Regions from separate parts of the Homo sapiens genome. Here region 1 is linked to region 2. Evidence: fine-mapped expression QTL. A gene starts in region 2. The other region holds a variant in brackets. All regions are shown on one strand. Distances are from middle to middle.

What was found. PIP is the estimated chance that this variant, and not a neighbour inherited with it, causes the effect.
Region 1: its variant is the best candidate, but not a certain one, in a credible set for the expression of TAB2 in aorta (GTEx, PIP 0.69).

The regions. Positions count from the first base shown.
Region 1 is chr6:149,378,838-149,382,837 of GRCh38, reverse strand. TAB2 (TGF-beta activated kinase 1 (MAP3K7) binding protein 2) reads right to left here. Exons shown (of 7, transcript NM_001292034.3): 3 at 3,320-4,000. Among named protein-coding and RNA genes, the nearest start is that of SUMO4, 19 kb to the left of the region's middle. RefSeq lists an enhancer at 3,068-4,000. The variant TAG/G (reference allele first, on the strand shown) is at 2,361.
Region 2 is chr6:149,315,484-149,319,483 of GRCh38, reverse strand. TAB2 (TGF-beta activated kinase 1 (MAP3K7) binding protein 2) reads right to left here and starts at 1,772. Exons shown (of 7, transcript NM_001292034.3): 1 at 1,469-1,772. RefSeq lists enhancers at 440-549, 710-889 and silencers at 980-1,879, 1,970-2,509, 2,560-2,629.

The DNA.
Region 1 (4,000 bases), 63 kb before region 2:
GTGTTATCTTTCCCTATGGTTGCCTTTTTTTAATTAATGGTTTTTTAGCTACATCCCTCTCAAATTGAGGCACATGTGGCCCCCACAGTGTTGTACCATGGGCTATAAGTGAAGCTACAAGATACACTTAAAATATCTTTCCAGAGGGTTTATTATGAAAATCTGGAAAGAAAGACATTATATGATAGTGGTTAACATTGTGGGCTTCTCTAACTTCCTAGTTAGAATTTTTTTTTTTTTCCTTTAGACAAAGTCTTGCTGTCACCCAGGCTGGAGTGCAATGGCATGATCTCGGCTCACTGCAACCTCTGCCTCCCGGGCTCAAGCGATTCTCCTGCCTCAGCCTCTCGAGCAGCTGGGATTACAGGCGTCTGCCACCACGCCCCGCTAATTTTTGTCTTTTTAGTAGAGATGGGGTTTCACCCTGTTGGCCAGGCTGGTCTTGAACTCCTGACCTTGTGATCCACCCACCTCGGCCTCCCAAAGTGCTGGGACTACAGGCGTGAGCCACCGTGCCCAGCCTCTAGTTAGAATTTTGACTCTGCCACTTGTCCTTTGACAAGTTACTTAATCTATCTGTTCTTCAATGTTTTAGTCTAAAAAATAATACTAGTGCAAATAAAAGGGCCCTAAAGTTTGCCTTCTATGTTTAAGGAAGAGAGTAAGAAGGCCAGGAGGGCTGGAACACAGTGAGCAGGTGGTAAGCAAAAGGAAAAGAGCTGGGGGGAGAAGCTGCTCATCCTGTAGGGCTTCATAGCTTTTATTCTGAGTGCAATAGATAGTGATCATGTGCAGAGAAGTGATATGATCTGATGCATATTTTTAACAGTATCTCCCTGGATGCTGAGTTGAAAGAAGACTGCAAGGAGGCAAGGACGAGAATGGGTAGGTCACTGCAATAATCCATTTGAAAGGTGATGATTGCTGAGACCACAGTAGTGATGATGGGGGAAGTAAGAAGTCACAGGCCAGGTGTGGAGGTCACGCCTGTAATCCTAGCACTTTGGGAGACTGAGACAGGCAGATCTCTTGAGCCCAGGGGTTCAAGACCAGCCTGGGCAACATAGGGAGACCCTGTCTGCAAAAAAATACAAAAAGTTAGCTGGATGTGGTGGTGTGTACCTGTAGTCCAGCTACTAGGGAGGCTAAAGTGGGAGGATCACTTGAGCCCAGGAGGTTGAGGCTGAAGTGAGCTGTGAACATGCCACTGCACTCCAATTTGGACGAAAGAGCGAGACCCTGTCCCAAAAAAAAAAAAAAAAAAAAAAGAATAGGAGGGGAATTGAAGATAGCAAGTTTAAGAAACACTTTATTTTCACATTCTAGTTAAACATGAATATCTTTTTAATATCACTAAATATGAATGCCTACTTTACTTGAAAATTTCCCTTATCAAATTATCTTCATAAAAAATTTGCTACTTAAGAATCAGCAACTATCCAACCATAGGAAACCTGATGTTTTGATGGAAGGACAGGAAGAGAAGGTGACTTTGGGAGAAGAGGAGAATTAAGTTGTAAGTGGAAAAAATAATAGCATATAACATTTATAAACTGCTGAAACTAAACAAAAATGGTTGTAGTTAATCACAGATATATGGAAAATAAAAGTTTTAACACAATTTCTAGGGCAATTGAAATCACTCATGTACCCCTAAAATGCACACACACAAATACATGCACACGCATACCTAGGATTCACTTTACTTAAGTTTGGGCAGAGCCCTGCGTACTTTATTTTTGAGATAGGGATCTCGATATGTTGCCCACGCTGGAGTGCAGTGGTGCCCTGCAACCTCAAACTTCTGGGCTCAAGCAGTCCTCCCACTTTAGCTTCTGAGAAGCTGGGACTACAGGCGGGTGCCACTGTGCCCAGCTGATTTTTTAAAGCTCCATGAATGATACTGGAATTCGAAAGGACCACAACCCAGCTTGGACTAAGAATCACTAGTGTAGCTGTTTAAAACATAAAATAAGGCAAAGCAATTAGGACCCCCTAAGAGACTCAGCAGTAAAATCACTGTATCAGAAATGTAAAAAAGGATGAGGATATTAGTGACAGTAGGGGCTGCATGCTGCCTGAGGGTGATGTTATAGTATTTTCCAACCTACAGCTGATACATGAAATGATTCACTGCAGATACATATATGACTAAGATATGCCCTTACTCTAAAAGGCTCAGTTCATCTACAAACTGGCATAAATATTCAAGAAAATGAATAACCTCCACCTTCTTATCTAAATGTATTTATTTAACAGTCCTACTGAAAATTATGTAACTTAAGAGGTTAGATAAAACATATGACAGAAATTTCTCTATTTGAATTAATATAGACATAATGTAGTATGCCAATATCAAA[TAG/G]TCTATTTCAGAAAAGGATAATCAATTGAAAGATTTGAAAATAATGTCCTTATAATTCCATGTAAAAAGAAATATATTAACCAACATTTAAGGGAGAATAAAAGGGACAAATATCAGGAACAAGATTCAAACTTCTCTTTGAGGTAAATTATTCTAATACTTACGCAGTAATAGACTTAATATAAAATAAGACTAAAATGTTGTATTAGAAAAATGAAGAATTTCCCCCCACCCCAGAGAAGGGTCTCACTCTGCTGCCCAGGCTGGGGCAGAGTGGTATGGTCACAGTTCACTCTAACCTTTGAACTCCTGGGCTCAAGCAATCCTCCTACCTCAGTCTACTGAGTAACTGGGACTACAGGTGTGTGCCACCATGCCTGCATAATTTCAAAACCTTCTGTAGAGACGGAGTCTCCATATGTTGCCCCAGCTGGTCTCAAACTCCTGGGCTCAAATGATCCTCCCATCTTGGCCTCCCAAAGCACTGGAATTACAGGCGTGAGCCACCATGCCCAGCCAAGAATTACTTATTCTTCAAATATCTGGTCAAAGAAGGCAAATTTACCATATTAGTCAAGAGAGTCAACTAGTTGCTTATTAAAACGTTATTTCTAGGAATTTTTATTTACAGAAAATTTAAAGAGAAAGTCAGCATCACCACAGGTATAAGATTAACTGAAAAGAAAGTGTTATAAACATTAACAAACCAACTAACCAGATTTGGTTACTCTGAAGAGCTGATAACCCAATTACTCAAACTTCCAGTTTTATAATAATAAAATAAAATTAAAATTAAAATGTATATACATATAATACTCTCAAATGTTACAATAACATCATTTGGGGCAATATTTAAACAATGAAATAACAATGCTAACATCCATTTCTGTTGTGAAATCAAATGCACACCAACAAGCCCAGCATGGAAAACCATCCCACCTTTAGTATTCATATTACCTTGTGTGTAGGCAGCATCATCAGATCCCATACTCAGTTTCCGTGTTTCACTTATTCTATCCACATGTGCTAATGTAGGGTCCGTGAGGTGCTGAATATTCTCGGTTTCTACATAATGATCAGGATGATTAAGAAGATTTGTAAGTTCAAAGGTAGGGGACACCACCCCTGGTGAAACTGCAGGGGGCTTATTGGGAGAGACTGTAATTTTGAAAGTGTATTTCGTATTGGGCTGAGTGACTACCACTCGAGGAGAGGTTGCAGAGTTATTGCCTATTGCTCGACTTTTGGGAGGATGGTGATGAATAAAGGCAGGACCCATGCTCACTTGCCCAGACATGTTCCTGGAGGCAGCAGATGCTCCAGAGTTTGTGGATATGAAGAGTGTGGGCTGATTCCGCATGACCTGTTCATCTCCTGTGGCAGCATTCGCTGAAATATAGACCTTAGGTTGACTACGGGACATCAGCTCATCCGTATTTGGGGGGCTGGCAGCTATGTAAACAGTGGGCTGATTTCTGTTTAAGGTCTGGCTATTGACTGAAGAGGAAGTGCTGGAGGTTCGAGGTCCAGAAGAACGCAGTTTTGAAGAATTATTTCTTTGTGGGGGTTCAAGTTTGATTTCAATCTGGTTTTTTCGAGGTCCTGTTGAAATATTCTGAATGTTATATTGGCTATGGG
Region 2 (4,000 bases):
ATCTAACAATTCTTCCCATTGTTTCTAATTAAAATGCTCAGCCAAAGCCTACAACAAAAGAAAAGCAAGTCTTCCTTTATTACAAACTGCCATGGTTTCAAAATTTACAGTTTCAAACCGTCAAAAGTTTAAAATCGTGATTTCATTGTTACAAAGAATGTAAAGATATTTTTTAAAAGGTGTCAATACTCTGCTACTGTATGAACAGTGTAGTAAGCAGAAGTGAAAAAACTGAAAGCAAATATTCTATTCCATGCCCACTAAAATTCCCGGCCAAATCTGGAATTGCATAATGATCATCATAACCTTTAGAGTATGCTAAAGCGGAAACGAAATTCCTTTTCTAAAATGTGAATCAATCTGACCCCAAAATTAGACACTTTACAAACTTACCTAAAACAGACAAAATGGATGCAAAATTATATTGCCGTACAGTTGCTCTGAATACGATCTTAGCGTTCAAGAACTTTCCAATGAATAAGGGTACTCAACAGCCTGCACTGGGGGCCTAAATTTCGTGAACTACGGAGAAACCCCTGTGAGGCTGCAAATTCCCTCCGCTCTCCTGGAAAACCCTCTTATCAGAAACATTTGAAGAATTTATCCACAACAATTAAGCTGACTTGAAGAATGGAAACCTAACATCTCAAATATACTATATATGGAATGAAACATGGCCAAACACATAAATACAAACTCACACGGTCTCTGACACTTTGGTGTACGACTGTGCCTGAACATCTCACAGCATCAGCAACAGAAAGATCCACCTGTCACCTGTTCAGCACCGCCAAGAGACCCTTGCAGCCTCCCTGACTCAACCACAATCGTAGGGTTTGAGGTTGATGGGACCGAAAACCAGAAACATCCAGTGAAATTTAAGGGGCCACATATTCATAGTAGGGCTTGCCCCCCACTTCAAAGACGGCTGCAGAAAACCAAGATCCGCAAAGGAACGATGTTCTCCCTCCCGCCCGACCCCCACATAACTGCCCCGTGTCTGTCCCCAAAACCCCCGCCCCTGAGTCATCTTTAACTAGACCTCGGCTCCCCAAAAGGAGATTTTTCCTCCCCCGCCCCCACCTCACACATGCCTGGGGGCGGGTCAGGGGCGCCGACGCAGGGAGGGGCCCTCCCGAGCCCCTTGCGCCCTCCCCCACCCGGGGCTCTCCTAGGCGCTCGATTCCAATGAAGCTCCCCCTCCCCCCCCGCACGGACGCCCCGGAGCCCAGGCCCGGCCCGATGCTCCCCACCCCCACCGGACTGGGGGACTCGGGGGGCCTCCCTCTCCGCCACGCCACTGGGGGAAGGAAAGAGGCGGAGGGAGGAAGAGTGCAAGTTAGAAGCGAACGCCCCGCACGGGCCTCGCGAGGCGGCAGAGCCCCTTCCAGACGGAGGGGGGTGCGGGGCGATGAGGGGAGAGCCAGGTTGGGGATCCCGCCGAGGCCCGGCAGCGCTGTCCGCTTACCCTTTGCCGCCGCCGCTTCCCCCTCCTCCTCCTCGGCCGCCGCCGCCGCCGCCTCTCCCACTAGGGCAGCCGTCTCCACCGTCGCCTCCGCCACCACGGCCGCCGCCAGCGCCGCCGCCGCCTCCGGTTCCACCCGGCAGGGGGGACACCTCAGCCCTCCCTCCCTCCCCGCTCAGCCCCCTCCGCTCGCCCGCCGCCGCCAACTCCCTCCGGCCGCCGCCGCCGCCACCGCTCCTGGCTGAGGGGGAGGGGAGGGGGTCGGGCTGGGTCGCCCCGCCGGCGGCTGCAGCAGATCAAAAACGACGGCTGGGCGGCGTCGCCGCTCCCCAATCCTCAGCTCCGGCTCGCTCGGCCTCCCCACCTCCCTCTGCCCCCACCCCCCTCGCGCTCGCCTGCCCTCCCCCCACCCCCCCAGCTCTCGCTCGCTCTCGCCGCGGCTCCGCCAGCCCAGTCCAAATCAAAATACTGTCACACAATATGGCGGCGCGGCGGCCGGCAAACACCGCGAGATCTGCAGCCGCGGCTGAGGCGGCGGCTGTGACGAGGCCTCCCCTAGCCGAACGGCGGGGGAGCAGCAGGCGGCGGCGGCGGCGGCGGCTGCGGCTGCGGCCCGGGGATGCTCTTCCTCCGACCTGTACCCCTCCCCCGACACTCGCAGTCTCTACGCCTGTCTTGCTAGGGCTGGAGGGAGGACGCGGGCCGCCGCTGGGGCCGTGCGAGGGGGGTGCCGGTGCGGGCAGCCCGGGGAGGGCTGGGACCCCCTTTCTCCGCCTGGGCCCCCCATCCTTGGGGGTAGGTTGCGGGTTCCACCTCCCGCCACGGGGGCCGCTAGCAGTTTGGGCTGAGGGAAGAAAGGAACTGAGCTCGCGTCCCAGCTGCACCTAGCGGAGGGGCTGGCCGGGTCCGGAAGTGGGTGGCGGGACTTGCCGGGCGGCCGGCGGCGCCGCGCGGGTGGGGTCCGGGGGCCCGGCCGGACCCCGGGGCGCTGCGGCGGCCGAGAGGAGCAGGTGGGCCCGCGGCGGAGGCTGGCGCCGGGTCGCTGCGGTCCGGGACACACCCCCTTGGAGCCGGATCGCACCGCCGGCTAACGGGAGGGACCCGTGCAGAATCGTCCCTAGGGTGTGCGGGAGACGTCTTGGGAGCCTCACAACTGGCAACTTCGAGACTTGGAAAAAGTGTCGGCTTCTGACTTTTCTTGAGCAGTTGAGGGGGAAAAAAGAAATCTAAATGCTGCGAGGGTTTCGTTGTTTCGATTTTATTTTAATTGCACGTTCCTAGAAGTCCTAGAAGCAGAGCCAAAGACTAGCTTTGCGGGAAGAGGGGGGGCCTTCAAGTTTCTACCTCCTTAAATAAATATTTGTTTAGTGTCCCCCTAGGGAAAAAAAAAGCGTGTTTAATACTCAGACGTTTCTCACAATGTGAAATATTTATTTAAAAATTCTAGCGCTTCCATGGTGTCCAAAACACTAGGGCATTTTTCTGCCCCTGTCCAAAATGTCCATATCCCTGGCAGTTTCTTCCTTGAAACAATTCTTACTCCAGAGAAAAATCCTAAAGGACCATTTTTATACTTTTATTTCCAGTGTGAGCACTGTAGCTACAGTGAGAATTTTTTTTAAACCATCTTTTAAATAGTAGAGCCTTCCTCACAGTTAAAAGTTCTTTCTCCCCACTTCCTTTTTCCTCATTCATCCTTTGAAAATACCTGAAGTCTGGGCTATAGCACCAATTCAAATACTTTGCCACTTCAAAAGCTGAAAGTACTTATGATTTACAATATCGGAATTTAATTATTCTCCATTGGTGATACCATTAAGAGAAGCAAAAGTAAAATTAGGATTTACAAAATTGGGAAGATTCTAGTTTTACTGGCGAGAAGAAATCATTAACTTTAACGCTTTACAGCAGTTCTCTGAGGAATTATTTCCATACTCAATGATAAAATAATTGATTAAATAATTTTAGATAAACTGAATCCATTAAGTAAATTTCACTTGTCTTTGAAACCATTATAAAGTACAGAGGCAACAATTGCTTTTGAAATGGTAGGATGATGTATTTTATGCAAATTTTTAAAAAAATTTATGGAATGTACATGTACGTATTTTAATAGAAATATAATGCTTTATAGATTATAGGTTTGAGCAGGTCAAGTCTAAAAACCAGTGGGGGGCAAAGAAGGTACATATAACAAATACATCCTTGCACCAGCAGTGCACTTAGAGCTATGTAGTCATGAGGAAGCATCAGACAAACCCAAGTAGAGGAAAATAAAATATAAAATAACTAGCCTGTATTTTTAAATCATGACCAATGTCATAAAAGACAAAGACTGCAGACTAGAAAAAACTAAAGACATGGTAACGAAATGCAATATGTGACCCTGAACTGGATCCTTTACTGGAGGAGAAAAATGTCATATAGGACATTATTGGGATAATTGGCGAAATTGGAATATGGGCTGTAGATTAAAGAATTGTATCAATGTTAAATTTCCTGAATATGTTTGCATGAGAATATCCTTGTTTATAA